Homo sapiens: one gene and its partner. The protein of the gene in region 1 purifies or fractionates together with the protein of each later gene. This does not show direct contact. Each region holds a gene or a part of one and is shown on either strand. Other genes may lie near its edges. The genes, in order: SRFBP1 and DDX10.

The links.
Region 2: the proteins of SRFBP1 (region 1) and DDX10 purify together in Homo sapiens (affinity purification with mass spectrometry; 4 studies listed by BioGRID and IntAct, with this or other methods). This does not show direct contact.

What each region holds. Positions count from the first base shown.
Region 1 is NC_000005.10:122,020,975-122,027,974, forward strand, and holds part of SRFBP1 (serum response factor-binding protein 1), read left to right. Parts: intron 1-1,395; coding exon 1,396-1,433; intron 1,434-5,967; coding exon 5,968-6,152; 3' UTR 6,153-7,000. UniProt on the Homo sapiens protein: May be involved in regulating transcriptional activation of cardiac genes during the aging process. May play a role in biosynthesis and/or processing of SLC2A4 in adipose cells.
Region 2 is NC_000011.10:108,671,217-108,683,733, reverse strand, and holds part of DDX10 (probable ATP-dependent RNA helicase DDX10), read right to left. Parts: intron 10,268-12,517; coding exon 10,207-10,267; intron 8,139-10,206; coding exon 8,008-8,138; intron 6,650-8,007; coding exon 6,491-6,649; intron 5,420-6,490; coding exon 5,299-5,419; intron 4,364-5,298; coding exon 4,174-4,363; intron 1-4,173. UniProt on the Homo sapiens protein: Putative ATP-dependent RNA helicase that plays various role in innate immunity or inflammation. Plays a role in the enhancement of AIM2-induced inflammasome activation by interacting with AIM2 and stabilizing its protein level.

The DNA of each region.
Region 1 (7,000 bases):
GCAATGCCACATTTGCCTAGTTTCATCAGAAAATGAGATGTTATAGCCAAATAATATGCCAGCTAATTTAAATTTTATTCCTTCACTTATCAAAGTTTTGAAACTTTGAAATCTTTTTTGATGAAAAACTTTTGAAAATGTTTCATGTATCTTTCTAAACAGAACTTTCTGAAAAGAATATGGTGTTTTTTCTTGATGATCCAGGACCATTATTGTAAACATCAGTCATTTTACTGTCTAGTACCATTTCAGTATATAAGGCTGCTTGCCCTTAAACTGAGTTTCTCCATACTGCTTTTTATTTGATGATGTTGCTGTCTCCATCTCTGTTGCTCACCACTTTTCATAGCTGTTCTGTTATAAAACAGTAAGTTTAACTTTATTTGTAATTCCAATTTGATAAAGGGTATCTTCACATTTTAGAGTGAAGGTTATGGTTAGCTAATTTCTTCAGTAACAGCTATAAACTGTTTTTGCATATATTTACAAGTCAGGGATAGTCTTTAATGAAATAGAAAAATGTGATGTAAAAATTTTTCAAAAATGTCACAGTATGGCAAAGACATAAAAACGTGTGGAGTGTTGAAATAATTAAAATATTTACTTATATTTTCCAAACTTGCCTCAAAAAGCTGCACTTTTTTCCACATTTGAAAATGGCACACCACTATCCCTTTACCACAAAATATAAATCTTTTTTTTTTTTTTTTTTTTTTTTTTGAGACGGAGTCTCACTCTATCACCCAGGCTGGAGTGCAGTGGTGTGATCTTGGCTCACTGTAACCTCTGCCTCCCAGGTTCAAGCAATTCTCCTGCCTCAGCCTCCTGAGTAGCTGGGATTATAGGCGCATGCCACCACGCCCGGCTAATTTTTGTTTTTTTTTTGTTTTGTTTTGTTTTCTAGTAGAGACGGGTTTCACCATATTGGCCCGGTTAGTGTCGAACTCCTGACCTTGTGATCCACCCTGCTCAGCCTCCCAAAGTGCTGGGATTACAGGCGTGACCCACCGTGCCCCGCCAAAATGTAAATCTTAATTTTTGTTATATGAGAGTCATTCTTCCTGTGAAAAGACTTTAGAAATTCTTTATATAGATAATCCCGAAGTGTAAAGGCAAGGTAACCAAGACAAGATATTTCCCATTACAAACAGAATTCTCTTTAAAGGTGGTGAGGGAAATAGGTCCTCATGTGTCTGTAGTAACACTGGATTCTAACAAACCTTTGTTTGATACAGCTACAACCTGGGACTTTCATAATTATTTTATTGTTTGCTGGTGTGACTAAGGAGTATAGTGGCCCTTTGAATTAGTTTTATCATCAATTTTGTTATGTTTTTTTCTTAAGATCAGAGGATTTATCTTTAAAAAGTCATAATGGTGTTTTTCTTCTTTTAGAAATTTCAAAGAACAGGCTCCAAAAACAAGATCCCTAGGTATGTATTCATAGTTGCCTGACCTTCATATGCAATTAAGCTATGTTTTACCAGAGTAAAAGAATGAGAAATTGTTGTTGCTTAATATAGCCTGAATGAATTATGTACCCACAGAAATGTTAACAGAGCATCTTACAATTATCAATATAATTTTTTGTTGTTGGTTTTCTTTTCTTCTGTGTCCTGCCAGAGGGAAAGATATAGACAAAATTTATCAGGAAATATTATGTCTATTTAACTTATCTCAAATTAAACCAACACTTTTTTTAAGTAAATTATGCAAGTTATATCTTAATTATTAGTGATCCTAAACGCTAATGCCATGCCGTTAAACATTGAATAACAAGTATATTACTTTCTTGGGCAAGAGTATAATCAGAATATTTTCAGATTAATTCGTAACAAATCTAAGTTTCATGTATTTGGGTAGAGTGACTTCTCACACAATCCTAGACTTTCACTAACTTAACATAGCAAAAATTCATTTCTCATTCACATCACAGTCCACTGTGATGAATTAGCAGAGAGGCTGTGTTCCACATAGTCATTCAAGGATCAGGCTTCTTCCATCTTTTGGCGTTTTCCTCCTCCAGGTTCCAAATATTCTCCATTTGCCAATAGAAGGGAATGGAGTACATGGAGAATTTTGCAGGTGTTTGTGAGCAAGGCCTGAAAGTAGCAGAAACCAGTTCTACTCACATATCATTAGCCAGAATTCAGTCACATGACCCCATCTAGCCACAGGGGAGCTAAGAAATGCAGTCTTACTATATATCTAGGAGAAAAGAGGAAGTGGAATTTCGTGAACACATAACTTTTTCTTCCAGTGACCAGACTTTCTATCACTGGATGGCCATTTCACTTTTCCTCCTACACAGAGCACACTTACCTCCTTCCCAAGGCAGCCAACCCAAAGTCACATCCAGTCACTGCATCTAGCTCAAAGTCCAGGATCACTGGTCATGGAGTATTTTCCATCAAATCTCATGGATGAGATTCTTCAAAGTCTGGTGACCTTTGTACCAAAAAGAAATTCATACCATGATATACCATGTATCGAGTAGCAGAACAGGGACAAAGTAATGACAATAAAAACTCTTGATAGCTTAAGGAAAAAATGGAAGGCACACAACAGGTCTACTATCTGAAATTCTGCTGAGCAAAGATTATGAAGGCTCTGAGAGGAACTTCTTTATCCATTGTTCTTCATGGTCCGTGTCTAGGGAGGGTCTTTGTTTCGTGGCCACATCTGAGGTGGGTATTTAACATGATCTCTTTGGAGTTTGCCCCAAGTCACTGGTACAAATATAAAATGATGAAGATTGTACAAAGTTCAGCAGAGGTTTTTTCCATCCCAGGCTTGTGATTTCTTTCACTATACACCTCCTCAAAAACTCAGTGGATTTCTGACCTCTGTTTCCTTCAGTCCGTCTGTGGGCTAGTTACCGTACTGAAAATTCTTTCTTTGAGCTAGTTCTCAAACTTGTCTTATTTGTTTGTGTTTTGTTTTATTTTTCCCACTTCCCGCTCTCATTCAGCATCTACTGCATTGAAAATTAATCAGATTTGGATGGGAGTGCCATACATTTAGTCTTATCTCTGCTCTAGGGCTGAGTTGCTGTGGGCAACTTTTCTTAGACTTACAGGTTACTGTTTGGGAGTCAAAGGCTTTTCTAAACCTTAAGTTCCCAAATATCTAGATTCTTTTGTTCTCTCTGTTCTCTTTTGTGTAGTGCATTGTCAAGGACAGCCAGTAATACGCTGATCTTTTTATTCTTTCCAGCCAGTTACCTTTGTACAGCAAACTCCATAGGCTTGTGGCCTGCTTGCCAAGTTATCACTGACAACAGTTTTACCTATTTCTTTGGCACATGGGTTGCTTACTTCTCATTCTCAGTTATCTGTTTCCTTGCTACCCACCACTGAACTGCTAAGCCAATGCCAAATTTTTATGTTATTGTAATGGTACTTCAGAGTACCAATTTTAGTATTATTCATAGTAGACTACCTGCTAAATCTCAGTGGTTTGTCATCTATCAGTCTGTCTGCTTCTAGGAATTTTATTCTGTCTTGTGCCTCTTGCCTCCTCTGGATCCTAGGAGTTCTCTTCATTCATCAGCGATAGAAAAGTAATGGAAGATTGAATGTGAGGTTTTTATGGTCCAGGCCTTTTACTCACATTTTATTGGCCATAACTCAATTAGCCATGTGACCTCACCTAACTGCAGCAGGAATGGAAACTATATTCTGATTGTATGCCTAAAAGGAAGATAATACAGGATTTGGCAGAAACATGTCAGTATGCCCCATTTATACCATATATTCACAAACACAGGATAACTGTAAATATAAGACATACCTACATTTTCACAATGAGACTATCCAAATAAAGGGTTTTTTGTGCTTAGCTTGTATGCTTAAAATATTTACTAGTTTATTTACATATACAACTCTATGTAATATATAAAATAATACATTCATTTAGAAATACTACCTTATTCAAATCTCAGTTTTTATGAAACAGGTTTTTGTTTTGTTTTGTTTTGTTTTTTTTATTTTTATTATTATTACACTTTAAGTTTTAGAGTACATGTGCACAACGTGCAGATTTGTTACATATGTATACATGTGCCATGTTGGTGTGCTGCACCCATTAACTCGTCATTTACCATTAGGTATATCTCCTAATGCTATCCCTCCCCACTCCCCCCACCCCACAACAGTCCCCGGTGTGTGATGTTCCCCTTCCTGTGTCCATGTGTTCTCATTGTTCAATTCCCACCTATGAGTGAGGACATGCGGTGTTTGGTTTTTTGTCCTTGCGATGGTTTGCTGAGAATGATGGTTTCCAGTTTCATCCATGTCCCTACAAAGGACATGAACTCATCAGTTTTTATGGCTGCATAGTATTCCATGGTGTATATGTGCCACATTTTCTTAATCCAGTCTATCATTGTTGGACATTTGGGTTGGTTCCAAGTCTTTGCTATTGTGAATAGTGCCGCAATAAACATACGTGTGCATGTGTCTTTATAGTAGCATGATTTATAATCCTTTGGGTATATACCCAATAATAGGATGGCTGGGTCAAATGGTATTTCTAGTTCTAGATCCCTGAGGAATCGCCACACTGACTTCCACAATGGTTGAACTAGTTTACAGTCCCACCAACAGTGTAAAAGTGTTCCTATTTCTCCACATCCTCTACAGTTTTTTTTAAACTTTTCATCTCTACAGCCACTCTTTGAATATTGTAACAGATTTCTAGAGCACATGTGATTTGTGTAAGATAAGGGTTGTTTTGATTTCTGTCTAGATAATGTTTTGTAAATATTATCCCAAACAGTGCACTGGTTTATATAACATTTTTACATTTGTTTTCTTAAAGAGGTCTTTAAAAGGCTTCTGACAGGCCGAGCACGGTGGCTCATGCCTGTAATCCCAGCACTTTGGGAGGCTGAGGTGGGTGGATCGTCTGAGGTCAGGAGTTCGAGATCAGCCTGACCAATATGTCTCTACTAAAAATACATAAATTAGCCAGGCATAGTGGCACATGCCTGTAATCCCAGCTACTTAGGAGGCTGAGGCAGGAGAATTGCTTGAACCTGGGAGGTGGAGGTTGCAGTGAGCCAAGATCACGCCACTGCTCTCCATCCTGGGCAACAGAGCAAGACTCCGTCTTAAAAAAAAGAAGTCTTTTGACAATGATTCCTAACTTGCAATGGAGAAATTACATAGTCATAGGACTGATTAAGAAGTCTATATTAAGTTTTTTTGTCTCTCTTTTTCTTTCTGATTCCATCTCCTAAGTTCTGTAAGCAACTAAAATGTGCATTGATGCATATCTTTTCATACTAGTGTATCTTCGCCAAATAAGACTTGGTTCAAAATCATGTAAAATGTTAAGATACTATATGGACTAGAATACAAGTTGCCACCTTCATATCTGGAGATTAATGTTACAACTAAAAAAGAACTTTGTCTTATATTCTTGAGTAGACTTAGTACTATTTGCCTTGTAATAACCACTTTTGGTTCAATAACAGACGGGAGTGGAATCAACTTATAGCCTTTAAAAATGAGTAAGCACTATCAGTATTGTCAGACTCAGTGGAGTGTCTTAGCTAAGATGTGAATTTTCTGGCTACATCTGCTTCATGTACACAGATATCATAAGCTAATGATGTTCCTTTGAAAATACATGATGCCCTTCTTTTTTGCCTTCCATGCTAGTACAACAGAGTGATTCCTTTCTTTATGTTGTTATAAATAAGACAGCACAGCATAAATTAAGAGGCACTCAATAAACATCTACTTATAAGTGTTAGAAAGCATGTGTGTCAAAATTGACTACTTGTATATAAATTTTCAACTTCAAACTATTCCCTGTTAGACTTCAGTTTTAAATTGTGAAATATTCCATTTAAGAAAACAAAATTTCTTTTTTTAACATTGGTTTGAAAAAGATGAAATTTACTTCTCCTATATGCTCTTTAAGTATATAGTTATTATTATTTTTGCTTTCTCTTCCTAGATTTTCCACAGAATGAGCCTCAGATCAAGAATCAGTTTAATAAGAAGCTATCAGGAAGACTTGAAAATACAAAACAGCAATTGCAGCTGCCTCTTCATCCTTCATGGGAAGCAAGCAGAAGGCGAAAAGAACAGCAATCTAATATTGCTGTGTTTCAGGGGAAAAAAATTACGTTTGATGATTGATTAGTGCCTCTTTCTGCAAACTTTTCCATCTAAAAAAAAAAATGTTTTTTTTAAGACAGGATCTCATTCTGTTGCCCAGACTAGAGTACAATATTGCAATCACAGCTCACTGCAGCCTCAAACTCCTGGGCTCAAGTGATCCTCCCACCTCTGCCTCCCAAAGGGCTGGGACTGCAGGTGCATGCACTACCATGCCCAGCTTTCTCACCCCAGGCTCTGCAGCTATTACTTAAACTCGTATTTGAATAAGTCTCTTGGGGAGAATTATAGAATGTTTGTTTTTGTATTTTTTTTTAAAGTAAATTCAACTTACGCTTATATAAGCCTTTCACAAATCCAATATGTACTTAAATTGATTTTTAATAATATCCCTCAGACTGTTTCCCTTATGAAGTAATTTGGGGATTTTAGTGATCTCATATTTTCTCTTTAGTGCTTATCATGAAATGTGCTTCACTGGTTCAGCTCTGTTGTTTCCTTAAACATAAATGTCAATATATATTTAAAATAATAATGGAAACATAGGAAATCAGCTATTTAAACCAGATCACCCTTGTTAAAAATCATTCTTGTTAGCAAACTAAAATAGTAACTTTTATTATGGATGTACAGATAAATATTAATTTTATTATAGTTTTAAGTACTTGTGATCATGTACTTTTTGATTCTAAAATAGTTGTCTAGGACAATTTTGGGATTCTTAATTATATTTTAGTTAAGAAAATTGTTTAAATATAGCAATACAACCAATAATTTGTTTTATGTTTCACTGCATATAAATATTTCCATTAAATCAAGAATGTATATTATCTAGTTTTTACTATACTTATTTTAAAATTTTTGAGGAA
Region 2 (12,517 bases), on another chromosome or scaffold:
GTATTTAAACTAATGAAGAAATAATAGAATTAAAATATCACAATTTTGCAAACCCTGATGAAATAATGGAGCTAGGCAATAATTTCTATCAGCTGCTAAAATTGCAGGGCTAAGAAGCTGCTTGTATCAGATTAACCCTCTGGCCTAGAATAGCAACTACAAAAGCAGGAATAAATACAAAACAAAACAAAAAGACTGGCAGCATCTGAGAGCTACCAAGGCAGGTAGGACTTGAGGTGCTAAAGGAAAAAACAGAAATGCCCTGAGCCAAGCCCTCTGTTAACAACCTCACTTTTCTCCCCAAAAGCATTTGCTGATTGCAAGACAGGGGAGAAACAAGGTAGCAGCCTTAAGCCTAAACACATCAGTCGCAAGTCCCAGAGAGAAGGAAAACTGAATCTAAAATTTTTCATACAATTTACCCTTGAGGAACATGCCAACCCCTAAACAGAGCACACATAAGTCAAAATGAGGAAAAACAAGCAAAAACCAACCAACTGGGAAGCTACAGAACTGAGCAGAGATTCTGGCAGGGTCACAATGCTACGAGGTTCACAACTTGCCAAGACAGAGGGGCCCTGGTAGATACCTCAGTCTTTTGGTTGAGACCCTGAGAAAGGCTATGCCCCATCTGTGAAGATTATACCCCAAGTCTCAGGACAAACCAGAAATAGGATAACCCCAGAGTCTAATTGCCAGGCTAGACCAGATCAAGACAACCTGACCTTAAGGCATTTGCTGGCCAGAAATAAAGAAAAAATTACCTTCAAAGGAACAAGAGAACTGTCAGATGACTTTGACAGAAATAATGGAACTTAGAGTACAACAAAGATGTCTTTGAAGAGGAAAAAAAAACTGCCAAGATAGGCTTCAAAAAAAAATGAAGATGAAATAAAGAGGTTTTCAGAAAGGTCAAAACGCTGTTTCACTAACAAGTCTGCACTAAAAAGGAAATTATCTGAGCAAAAGAAAAATTCTCAGGTGGAAGGGTGACAATACAAGAAGAAGAACTGGGTAAGTCTAAATAAATACTGATGTTGCAAACAGTGATAACAGTGGCTTATGGGGCTTAAGATACACGTGGAATTAAAATACTTAACAATGAAGACACAAAGGTAGGAAGAAGTAAAGGGACCCAAATAATAATTAAATTAACTGTCAAAAGCAATTATCATACCAGATTAAAAATATGCTACTCACAAAGACAAATCTAAAAACATAGGGTGTAAACAATGTAGAAAGTACAAGGATGGGAAAGGATTCACCATGCAAATGCTAACTCAAAGAAAGTTGCTATAGGTAGACTAATATCAAACTAGACTTAAAGTTGGCCAGGCACAATGGCTCAGGCCTGTAATCCCAGCACTGTGGGAGGCCGAGGCGGGTGGATCACCTGAGGTTAGGAGTTCGAGACTAGCCTGGCCAACATGGTGAAACCCCGTCTTTACTCAAAATACAAAAATTAGGTGGGCATGGTGGTGGGCACCTGTAATCCCAGCTGCTCGGGAAGCTGAGGCAGTAAAATTGCTTGAACCCGGGAGGCAGAGGCTGCAGTGACCCGAGATCATGCCACTGCACTCCAGCCTGGGCGACAGAGCAAGACTCCATCTCAAAAAACACTAGACTTTAAGGCAAAAAAGAATTAGTAAAGATGAAAAGAAACATTTTATAAAATGAAAAAACACCGGGAGTAGGGAAGTGTTTTGCTACTCGTATTACAAATAAATAATTAATTTATCTAAAGGGCTCCTCCGAGCCAATAAGAAAAAGGCAAAAAAACCAAACCAAAAAAGACAGACTGTCCACAGAAAATAAGCACATACATGCAAAAAAGAAGCATTTCATAATGATTAATGTTTCAAATTGACAATGCAATTCTAAATTTGTATATACCTAATAACATAAGCTCATGACATATCTCAAATTTGAAATTTTTCATAATCCACCATAGAATTCAACTTGTCACTGAAAAACAGCAAATTGCTATGGCCCAAAGGCATATTCTCTCAAAAATAAAATCATTAGAAATACCAGTTGTCTATATATAACCACATAATGAAAACACTAGTATACTTTTTCTAAGTATGCTCTGACTTACAACTTCAGAAAGATCTAATTTTTCTTTAGTTGTTGTGTCCTTCACAATTTGAGAGTAGATACTCTCTAACACCTTAAAATATTCTTGATTATTATCTCTCCTGGTGTATGAACCACATTGATAAGCTACTAAAGTGGAAAAGCTAACATTGACATTAGATGAAATTCCTAAGAGCATCTGCTTTTTTATGTTTCCTATAAATTTGGAATATTAGAATACTGCAGCCATTATCATATAACCTGAGGTTTTGTAAATTATGTCAATACATGTCTACCTTCCAAAATTTTTTTCTGAAAATTTTGTCCACCACACTTTTATAAGTGATGGGACCGGGTTTCAAAAATCATTTGTGAAATAATATCAAAGTCTTTGTAGTTTTTTTCTAAAACTTTGTAATTTACAGAAAATAACCAACTCTTACCTACAGAAATTGGGGATAGGAAATAATACGTACAAATTAACTTGCATAAATTATGAAAGGTCTTAGAGACATCTAATGATTAAAAAAATCTGTCTGATGAATATTAAAAATAGGCTGGAGGCAAACAGAAAAAAGAGAAAAGTGAAAAATCCTAGACAAGCAGTCTTTACATTTTCAAGTTAATTGTTAATTGTCACAAAAATTTTCATAGCTATCTCAACTCTTTAAGAGATCAATGTCCACTCGAAAGTAAGCCAAGGGAAAAAAACTATACCTCACATATCTTACTATTCCATTCCCAAGTTCTTGAAAGTCAAAGATACCAGTACTCAGATTCCCCAAGATCACCCAGAAGCAAAGAATCTGGCCTCTTCGTCTCAGGCTTTTTAAATCCTAGACATACATTATACAAGGTCAAGATGGGCCTGAATACTCATATTTTCTCTATTTAAGGAATTTCCAGATAACACAATTCATTTTCCAAATCTATTTCTTTTTAGGCTAACATTTCAGAGCAAGAAGAAATAAAAATTTTAAGATATAAATAATAGAAGAGTTGAATTTACATTGCTATCTTCAACAAAAAATCCAACTTTATATTTACTGGAAAACATTTCTCCTGGAAGTCTGCAGTGATTCATACCAAATATATATGCTTCTAATTGTCATATGAAAATACAACTTAAAACATATCCCAGCTGGGCACAGTGGCTCATGCCTGAGTGTAATCTCAACACTTTGGGAGGCCAAAGTGGGAGGATTGCTTGATCTCAGGAATTTGAAACCAGCCTGGGCAATGTAGTAAGTCTTCAACTCTACAAAAAATTTTAAAATTAGCCACGCATGGTGGTATGCCCTGGTTGTCCCAGCTACTCAGGAAGCTGAAGCAGGAGGATTGTTTGAGCCCAGAAGTTGAAGGCTGTAGTGAGCTATATTCACACAACTGCACTCCAGCCTGGGTGACAGAGCAAGACCCTGTCTCGAAAAAAAGAGATAAATAAAAATTTCCCCAACTACTTGCATATCACAAACATACATACTTTTACTGTAACACATATACTTTAAGCTCTAGTTTTTAATGAGACCAAGACAAAACAATAGTTGCTAGAATTTTAGACTGAAAGGTATTTTGCTAAATATTAATGCACTTCATAAAATGTGTTCCATAACACATTAGTACTGCATAATCCTGCTAAAAAGGATGATTCCGTACCCAAAAAATTTGGTAAATGTAGCAAGCTACATCCACCTCCCTCCCACTGCTTTCAACAATCACAATGTCCCTGAAAATATTAAAGGTTGTGAGAAATAGAAATAAAACTGTTTCACTTTGACTCACCATTTGCTATTTCATCCCTTCTCCCTTCGTTTATTAAGAGGTAGTGTTGGCAAATGGTAAAATACCTCTTAACATCTATGGAAAAACATTTGTTCCCCTCCCAGACCACATTTTGGGAAATGCTACATTCAAGTACCCTGACATTTAAAGATATATGCAGAATTTGGGTAATTTTAACTGGTATATTTACTATGCTTTGCATAACCAATAACTCATAGAATGTCTTAATTCCCAGAAAACAGATATTTAAAATACCAAATCCCTAAACTAAAAAAGTAAAAAACATTTATCTTGATTGACTCAAAGAGTACATACCTATATTTTGCTTTTTCATGAACCCAGACATACTCAGGGTTTTTCAAACTCAAGCGTGCAAGGTCCTTTACAGATTTAGTTTGTGTTGCTGAGAAAAGTAAAGTCTGACGTTTCTTGGGGAGATTTTCAATAACAGCATTCATGGTATCAGCAAAGCCCATATCCAAGATTCTATCTGCTTCATCAAGAACTGAAAAAGGAAAATGCAAGTTGAACTATCATATGTAAAATATACATTAGGCTAAATGCAATGGGTATCCTGGATTGGATCCTAAAACAGAAAAAGAACATTAGCGGAAAAACTGGTAAAACCTGAATAAAGTCTGGAATTTATATGATGTAGCAATGTTAACCTTAGTTTTGATAAAAGTACCATGTCATGTAAGACATTAACACCAGGGGAAGGCTGGGCACAGTGGCTCAGGCCTGTAATCCCAGCACTTTGGGAGGCCAAGGTGGGCAGATCACAAGGTCAAGAGGTCAAGACCATCCTGGCCAACATTGTGAAACCCCGCCTCTACTAAAAATACAAAAATTAGCTGGGCGTGGTGGTGCACACCTGTAGTCCCAGCTATCGGGAGGCTGAGGCAGGAGAATCACTTGAACCCATGAGCCGAGATCATGCCACCGTACTCCAGCCTAGCAACAGAGCGAAACTCTGTATAAAAAAAAAAAAAAAAAAAAAAAAAATTAGGGGAAACCAGCTGAAGGATAATGCAGGAACTCTCCACTGCAACTTTCCTACAAATCAAAAATGTTCAAAGATAAAGTTGATTTAAAAATACACATCAGGTAGTATTCCCAAGCAAAAAAGAAAAAGTTCATTTAAAAAAATGCCAATTTGACCTTTCAAGTTATTAGAAGCAGGTGTTAAAAACCTTGGCATGGTCTAATACTAACGTGCCTAATTTCACATATAAGCGTACATACATTCTTCTGATTTTTTTAAGTCTACTTTTACTTTCTGGGTTTAGAGCCCAAATGCCAAAATGTTTCAGTAATTTTTAAGTTTGTTTTGAATCATAACATTTATCTAACATAAAATTTCTATCATAAAAATGTATAAGGGCTCTCTCCTAAGTCTGAGCTTTTTTTTTTTTTAAATTAGAAATTGATTTGACTCACCTAACATTTGGAGGTCGGTAGCATGAAAAGATACTGTTTCATCCATGTGTTGAAGAAGCCGACCTGGTGTGCACACGAGTATATTTATGTTGTTGATCCTCTCAGCTTCGTGTTTTAGATCCTGAAAACAGTTATTTATTTTGATTACACAGACACATCACTCTCAGCAGCCTGTGTACCAAAGCTATAAAAGCCATCTGCATGGGCATTTCATCACAACATTTTAGATACTCTTGGAAATAAACATAACTTTTCCCTTGTATTTCTGAACCATATCCACATTTCTGGGCTAAATAAAAGTCTTTACAGGAAGACATAAGGAGCTCAGAGTTCTAAATTCTTATTCATACCCAGGATTTTGAGGCTAAGAAAAAAAAATAATCAAATGAATACTCCAAGTCAGGATTTCCTATTTGGATCAGAACTGACATAAACTGGAATCACTCTCATTCTTTAATTCAGGACCCAGGGACATTGAACAGACTCTGACACCGCTCAAGGACTGTACTTTGTGAACTGAAAAAAGCCGAGGTTCTCTCCTTGATACAAGAACCACTTCTCACAGTCCTGGAGGCGGTGGGAAAAAACAGAATGTTGTTAATTGTTAAAGTTAGGCAACAGGTACGTAAGGGTTTGTGATGCTATTCTTTCTTCTTTTGTGCATGTTTGCATAAAAATTGAAGTATTTATCCTCACAGTCTAGTGGAGATTCTAGCAGATAGAGGCATTCTAGATGTGCTATAAGATAGAACAAAAGTGAGCAGCAGGTCTTATCTTGACCTACTATAAACATTCCTCTAAAGAGTCTACCTTCCTTTCTTACGCTGCTGATGTAGCAATCCTCTGAATTATTCAGCCTCTTAGATAGATACCTTATTAAAAGGTACTAGTTCATATATGGAAATATCTTTCCCAATGAATATCAACAAATAACTTTACAGGATTAGAGTAAATATGTCTTAGAGAGGCTAATCAATTCAGATTCCCCGACAAAAAAAAATGGACTTTCTGGGCCTGCAAAATTGGCAACCAGATCGTAGATAGCAGCGACCACACCAAGTGCTACTATCCCATGAGGCCCTGGTCTAGGTCAGTCTGTTTAGATGAAGTCTCTGCTGCCTCCCTGTCATCGGCCACAGTACTCCAGTATAGGTTACAGAAGGAAAGGAAGGACATAGACAAAAGGACAAACCTTTCCACCAATGATGAGACCAGCTGAGAAGTCATGATTCTTTCCTACTTTTCGGAGAACCTCAAAGGTCTGATAGGCCAGTTCTCTCGTAGGTGATATTATGAGAACCCCCAGCCCATCTGTTGAAGTCCATTGCAGACGATATAAGGCTTCCAGCACCTCAAAAAGACAGCAAATTCATGTTCAGTAAGTCATCAGAAGTCAGCTTTTTGACCTGCATCTCAACCTTGCCCCTCCAAATCAAAGGGATCTTCCAAGCAGAAGGCATACCACTCAAGTTTTATCCAGTCCAAAGTAAATGATTTTGTTTATCTTCCATCAGAACCATCCACCCCCAACTCAGAGGAAAGGGAAAAGAAACCCCACGGTAGTTCAGCTGCTGCCAGAGCCATGCCATCAGGAAACTGGCTATCAGTGAAAGGTATGTACAACCCAAAGACCTTTACAACACACTTAAGAATAATATTTATCATTTTCTAAATAACCACACTAAAACTTTTGGCTGGGCGCAGTGGCTCACGCCTGATCCCAGAACTTTGGAGGAGGAGGCGGGTGCATCACTTGAGGTCAGGAGTTCAAGACCAGCCTGACCAATATGATGAAACCCCGTATTTACCAAAAATACAAAAATCAGCTTGGCGTGGTAGCCCACATCTGTAATCTCAGCTACTTGGGAGGCTGAGGCAGAAAGAATCGCTTGAACCTGGGAGGCAGAGGTTGCAGTGAGCCAAGATTGCACCACTGCACTCCAGCCTGGGCAACACAGCATGACTTCATCTCAAAAAAAAATAAAAATAAGTAAATAAACTTTCACCCATGTAGCTGCTGTAGTTATATAGTAACTGAATTATCTAGCTATAGGGAGCCTTTTTTTTTAAGGGGGCAAAAACACACTAGGATTTAAGAGAAAAGTGGTTTTTGCAATATTTGGAACAAAAACTAAAATGAGATTTTTCTGGGTCATTTTATAGGAATGAAAAATTAGGAGACCAACGTAACAGAGATGGAAGTGAAAGCCTAAGAAGCTCTACTGTTTTGCTGCCATAAAAGACCGATAGCAATGTCCCAGAAAATTCTCAACAAATGCCTAAAGCTCCTTAAACTGAGCATATTTCAGCTTTATCCTAAACAAGGTGGCAAGTATAAATGCCACTGGCAGGCTCACAAGGGTGAGAGCAGAAACTGTCTCCCACCAGTCCTACTGCAGCACAGAACCACTTTAACCTGCCATACTGGAGCACTCCACTTCCATCAAGAATGTAATGACTTGTCAAGGCACAATAGTTCATTCATTCAGTAAGTTATTGAGTGCCTGCCACATGCAAGGCACTGTGCTAGAACCTGGGGAAAATGGTGAGAACAAGACACACATGTGGCTCCTGTTTGATGAAGCTCGCATTCTAGCCAATCTATCATGAAATCTAACATGAAAACATCTCTTTATATAATCTGCATCTGGGCACAGAATGTTATAAAATTGTATAACAGACAGTCTGACCCAATGACAATGTACTTACTGGAACAAGAAAAGCCAGAGTCTTGCCAGATCCAGTTTTGGCCGCTCCAAGTACATCTTTACCTTGCAAAGCCAATCCAATGGTCTGCTTCTGTATCTCAGTCACCAAACGGTACTGAGCTTCTTGCAAACCTGGCAACATGGAGGGAAGAATTATACTTTAGAAGATCCCTGTAGGATGGTATTATAGGCTAAGTGAGTTGTGTCCCCCAAAATTCCTATGTTGAAGCCCTAATGCCTCGTACCTCAGAACATAACTATACTTGGAGACAGGGCCTTTAAAGAGGTTGATTAAGTTAGAGCCCCATAGGGGTGGACTCTGATCCAACACAAACGGTGTCTTTATGAGAAGAAACTTGAACAAAGAGACACCAAGGGTCCACATGCACAGAGGGAAAACCATGTGAAGAGAGACAAGTTATTCTGTGATCCACCTACTCCACTCCTGGGTATAATCCAAAGGGTTTATTAATAAAACCACTACTTTGAAAAGTATTTGTGCTCACATGTTCATTGCAGCATTATTCACAGAAGCCAAGATATGAAATCAACCTAAGTGTCCATGAATGAGTAAAGAAAATATATGTTATATACATACACATACACACACACACACACACACACACACACACACACACAAATGGAATATGACTCAGCCTTTAAAAAGGAAATCCTGTTATTTACAACAACATGGATGAACCTGGAGGACCTTATGTTAACTGAAATAAACCAGGCACAGCAATAAAGATGCCACATAATCTCACTTATATGTAGAATCTAAAAAAGCCAAATTCAAAGGAGCAGAGGGTAGAATGGTAGTTACCAGAAGCTGGGGGAAGTAAGGAGAGTGGGAAGATGTTCATCAAACATACAAAATTTCAGTTAGAAGGAAGAACTTCAAGAGATCTATTGTAGGCCAGGCGTGGTGGCTCACGCCTATAATCCCAGCACTTTGGGAGGCCAAGGCAGGCAGATTCCTTAAAGTTCAGGAGCTCAAGACTAGCCTGGGCAACATGGCAAAACTCTATCTCTACCAAAAATTTTTAAAAATTAGCCAGGCACAGTGGCATGCACCTGCAGTTCCAACTACTCAGGAGGCTGAGATGGGAGGATCACTTGAGCCCAGAAGGCTGAGGATGCAGTGAGCTAAGATCACACAACTGCACTGCACCCTGGGTGACGGAGCAAGACCCTATCTTAAAAAAAAAAAAGAGAGATCTATTATATATCTCTCTTAATATATACTGCTATAGTTAATTAAAATATACTGAAAAAAGAAAAAATACTAAGTAGATTTTAAGAGTTCTAAACACAAAAGGATGAGGTAATATTAGCACATATACAATTAGTTTGATTTAGCCATTCCACAGCATATACATATTTCAAAGCATCATGTATACACTGTAAATATATACAATTTTTTTTTTTGAGACGGTGTCTCACTCTGTTGCCCAGGCTGGAGTAGAGTGGCATGAACCCGCCTCCCAGGTTCAAGTGATTCCCCTGCCTCAGCCTGTAGCTGGGATTACAGGTGCCCGCCACCACACCCAGCTAATTTTTGTATTTTTAGTAGAGACGGGGTTTCACCATGTTGGCCAGGCTGGTCTCAAACTCCTGACCCTGTGATCCACCCACCTCGGCCTCCCAAAGTACTGGGATTACAGGCATGAGCCACCACACCTGGCCAAATATATACAATTTTTATGTATCCAAAAATAAAAAGGCAGCAAGAGGGCAGCCATCCACAAGCCAAGGAGGCCTGGAACAAATCCTTCCCTTATTTTGCCTTAAGAGGAAACCAATGCCACCAACATCTTGATCCCAGACTTCCAACTTCCAGAACTGTGAGAAAATCAGTCTCTGTTGTTTAAGCCACTCAGTCTGATATTTTGTCATCTCAGCCCTAGCAAACAGATACAAAGGGTGTTGCATCTTGGTTTGTTCCCTTGCTTATTTTAACTAACAAAATTAGATTTCATTTTATTCAGAGGATGCTGGAAACTTGTTTTTCTTTTAATTAGTCCAGAAAGAATGAGAATAACGTACTGTTAAAACTTGAATATTGCTTATTTTCATTGGTTTTCATGATATCAAAATTTGCCAAAATAAGATTTTTCAGGCTAAACCCTCTAAATCTTCTCCCATTTATCAAAAATGCCAAGAAATCCAATAACACATCCCAAGATCACCATATACTTACCTTTCAATGTTTTTTTGGACAAGGGAAAATCTGAAAATCTTGTGATTTCATTTACATTTATCTGGAAAAAAAGAAAAAGGAATCAGGGTAACTCATTTGTTTCACGACACAGCCATTTCTTCTCTACATTGTATTGCCCAGCTCATCCTTGGTAATTCAGGGTTGAATTCAATCATCGCTTCTAATTAAAAGCCATCATTCCTTCTGTAACGAAATATGCCCTGAAGAGGCTGTCCCTGAATCGAATATACATTTGTAAGCATTTCAATTGGTAAGGAAAAAAAAGTCACCCAATACACACACACCACACATACTACTATCTGACCTCCAAAATGTTGAACACAGTAAAGCATCACCAACCACATCAATTTTAGGAAGAAAATTTACTTCCTATCATCCTTCAAGGGATCTCAATTTAAGAAACAAGGACAAAATTACCACAAACCACAGATCACAATGAAAATAGTTCTATACACACAATTTGGAAAAAAGAGTGAAATTAGTTGGAGAAATATTTCTTGTTAGCACAATCCTTTCAAAGTTTTAACCATAAATCAGTGGCCTATGAAATCCAACCTGATAACTATTCATTTTGGGGTTACTGAAGGAGGAGTATTATTTCAACACAGGGGAAATGTCTGTCATGCTTTGAAGCCACAATAAGTAACATTTTGCTAACTTTACATTATTCAAATATTCATTACTGATGTTCTTTATTAGCACAAACCCAATTTTCTGAATTTCATTTCAGCTGCTCAGGAGAATTATTTTATTACAGATGCTGAAGGCAGGAACTACTGCTCAGTTCTGGAAATATGCTGCCAAATTATACATGATTCGCAAAAGGAAAAAGCTGCATTTGTATGGTTCATTTATTTAAATTACACTCTAGGCAGTAAAAGGATGACAGTTGTACTTCATTTTACAATCTACACATCTTTCCTATGATTCTTAACATTGCCCAGGCAGTGTTTACTCTGTGCCCTCCAATGCTGAAAATACAAATATTAAAACATTGTCTTAATCCCTACAAATCATTTCAGATATCACTGGAAAGGAGGCAGAATCAGTGTACCAGCATTAGAAGAACGGTTTATTCAAATAACATACTGTCCCAGCAAGGAACCTCAATTAGAAGATAATCTTCCAAACAAGGCATTAAAATTAGGTGTAGCTCACTCTAGCACTCGTGGTATTATCAGCTAAAAAGCTGTTTTCAAAGGGAATGGAATGCCTACAGAAGGAGGCAGGCTGCCAACACACTCTTCAATCCCCAGCAAGAGACACAGTACAGGCAAAGCGAGCTCCTCAAACAAAACATTGCACAGCACATCTATCTTCCTAAAGTCAGTTAACCTCCTGGAGGGAAAGTTTAGAAGAATGAAACTGCTCCAACACTCTTCAATCAAGCATTACAACAGAAAACTATATACCATATTCCTTTTTTTTTTTTTTTTTTTTTTTTCCGAGATGGAGTCTCGCTGTGTCGCCCAGGCTGGAGTGCAGTGGCGCGAACTTGGCTCACTGCAAGCTCCACCTCCCGGGTTCACGCCATTCTCCTGCCTCAGCCTCCCAAGTAGCTGGGGCTACAGGCGCCCACCACCACGCCCAGCTAATTTTTTCTGTATTTTTAGTAGAGACGGGGTTTCATCGTGTTAGCCAGGATGGTCTTGATCTCCTGACCTCGTGATCCACCCGCCTCGGCTTCCCAAAGTGCTGGGATTACAGGCGCCATATTCTTTAAAAGAAGACGAAGAAAAGGAACTTTTGATTCTGTTGATGTTCTAAAATAGGGCCCAGCAAACTACAGCCTACGGGCCAAATCCAATTTGCTGCCTATTTTAGTAAGTAAAGTTTTATTCGAGCACAACTACAATAATTCATTTATTTATTGTCTATGTAGTTGTTGCGGAGACTGTATGGACCATAAAGCCTAACACAGACTATCCAGCCCTTTACAGAAAAAGAGTTTGCTGACCCTGCTCTAGATATTCTGTTATATTCCAAGGATTACATAGCAGCCACAGCAGGAGATGGCTACGGTTCCTACAAAGAAAATAACCCAGCCAGGCACGATGGCTCACGCCTGTAATCCCAACACTTTGGGAGGCCAAGGCAGGCGGATCACCTGGGGTCAGGAGTTCAAGACCAGCCTGGCCAACATGGCGAAACCCTGTCTCTACTAAAATTATAAAAATTAGCCAGATGCAGTGGCGTGCGCCTGTAATCCCAGCTACTTGGGAGGCTGAGGCAGGAGAATCGTTTGAACCCAGGAGGCAGAGGTTGTGGTGAGCAGAGATAGAGCCACTGC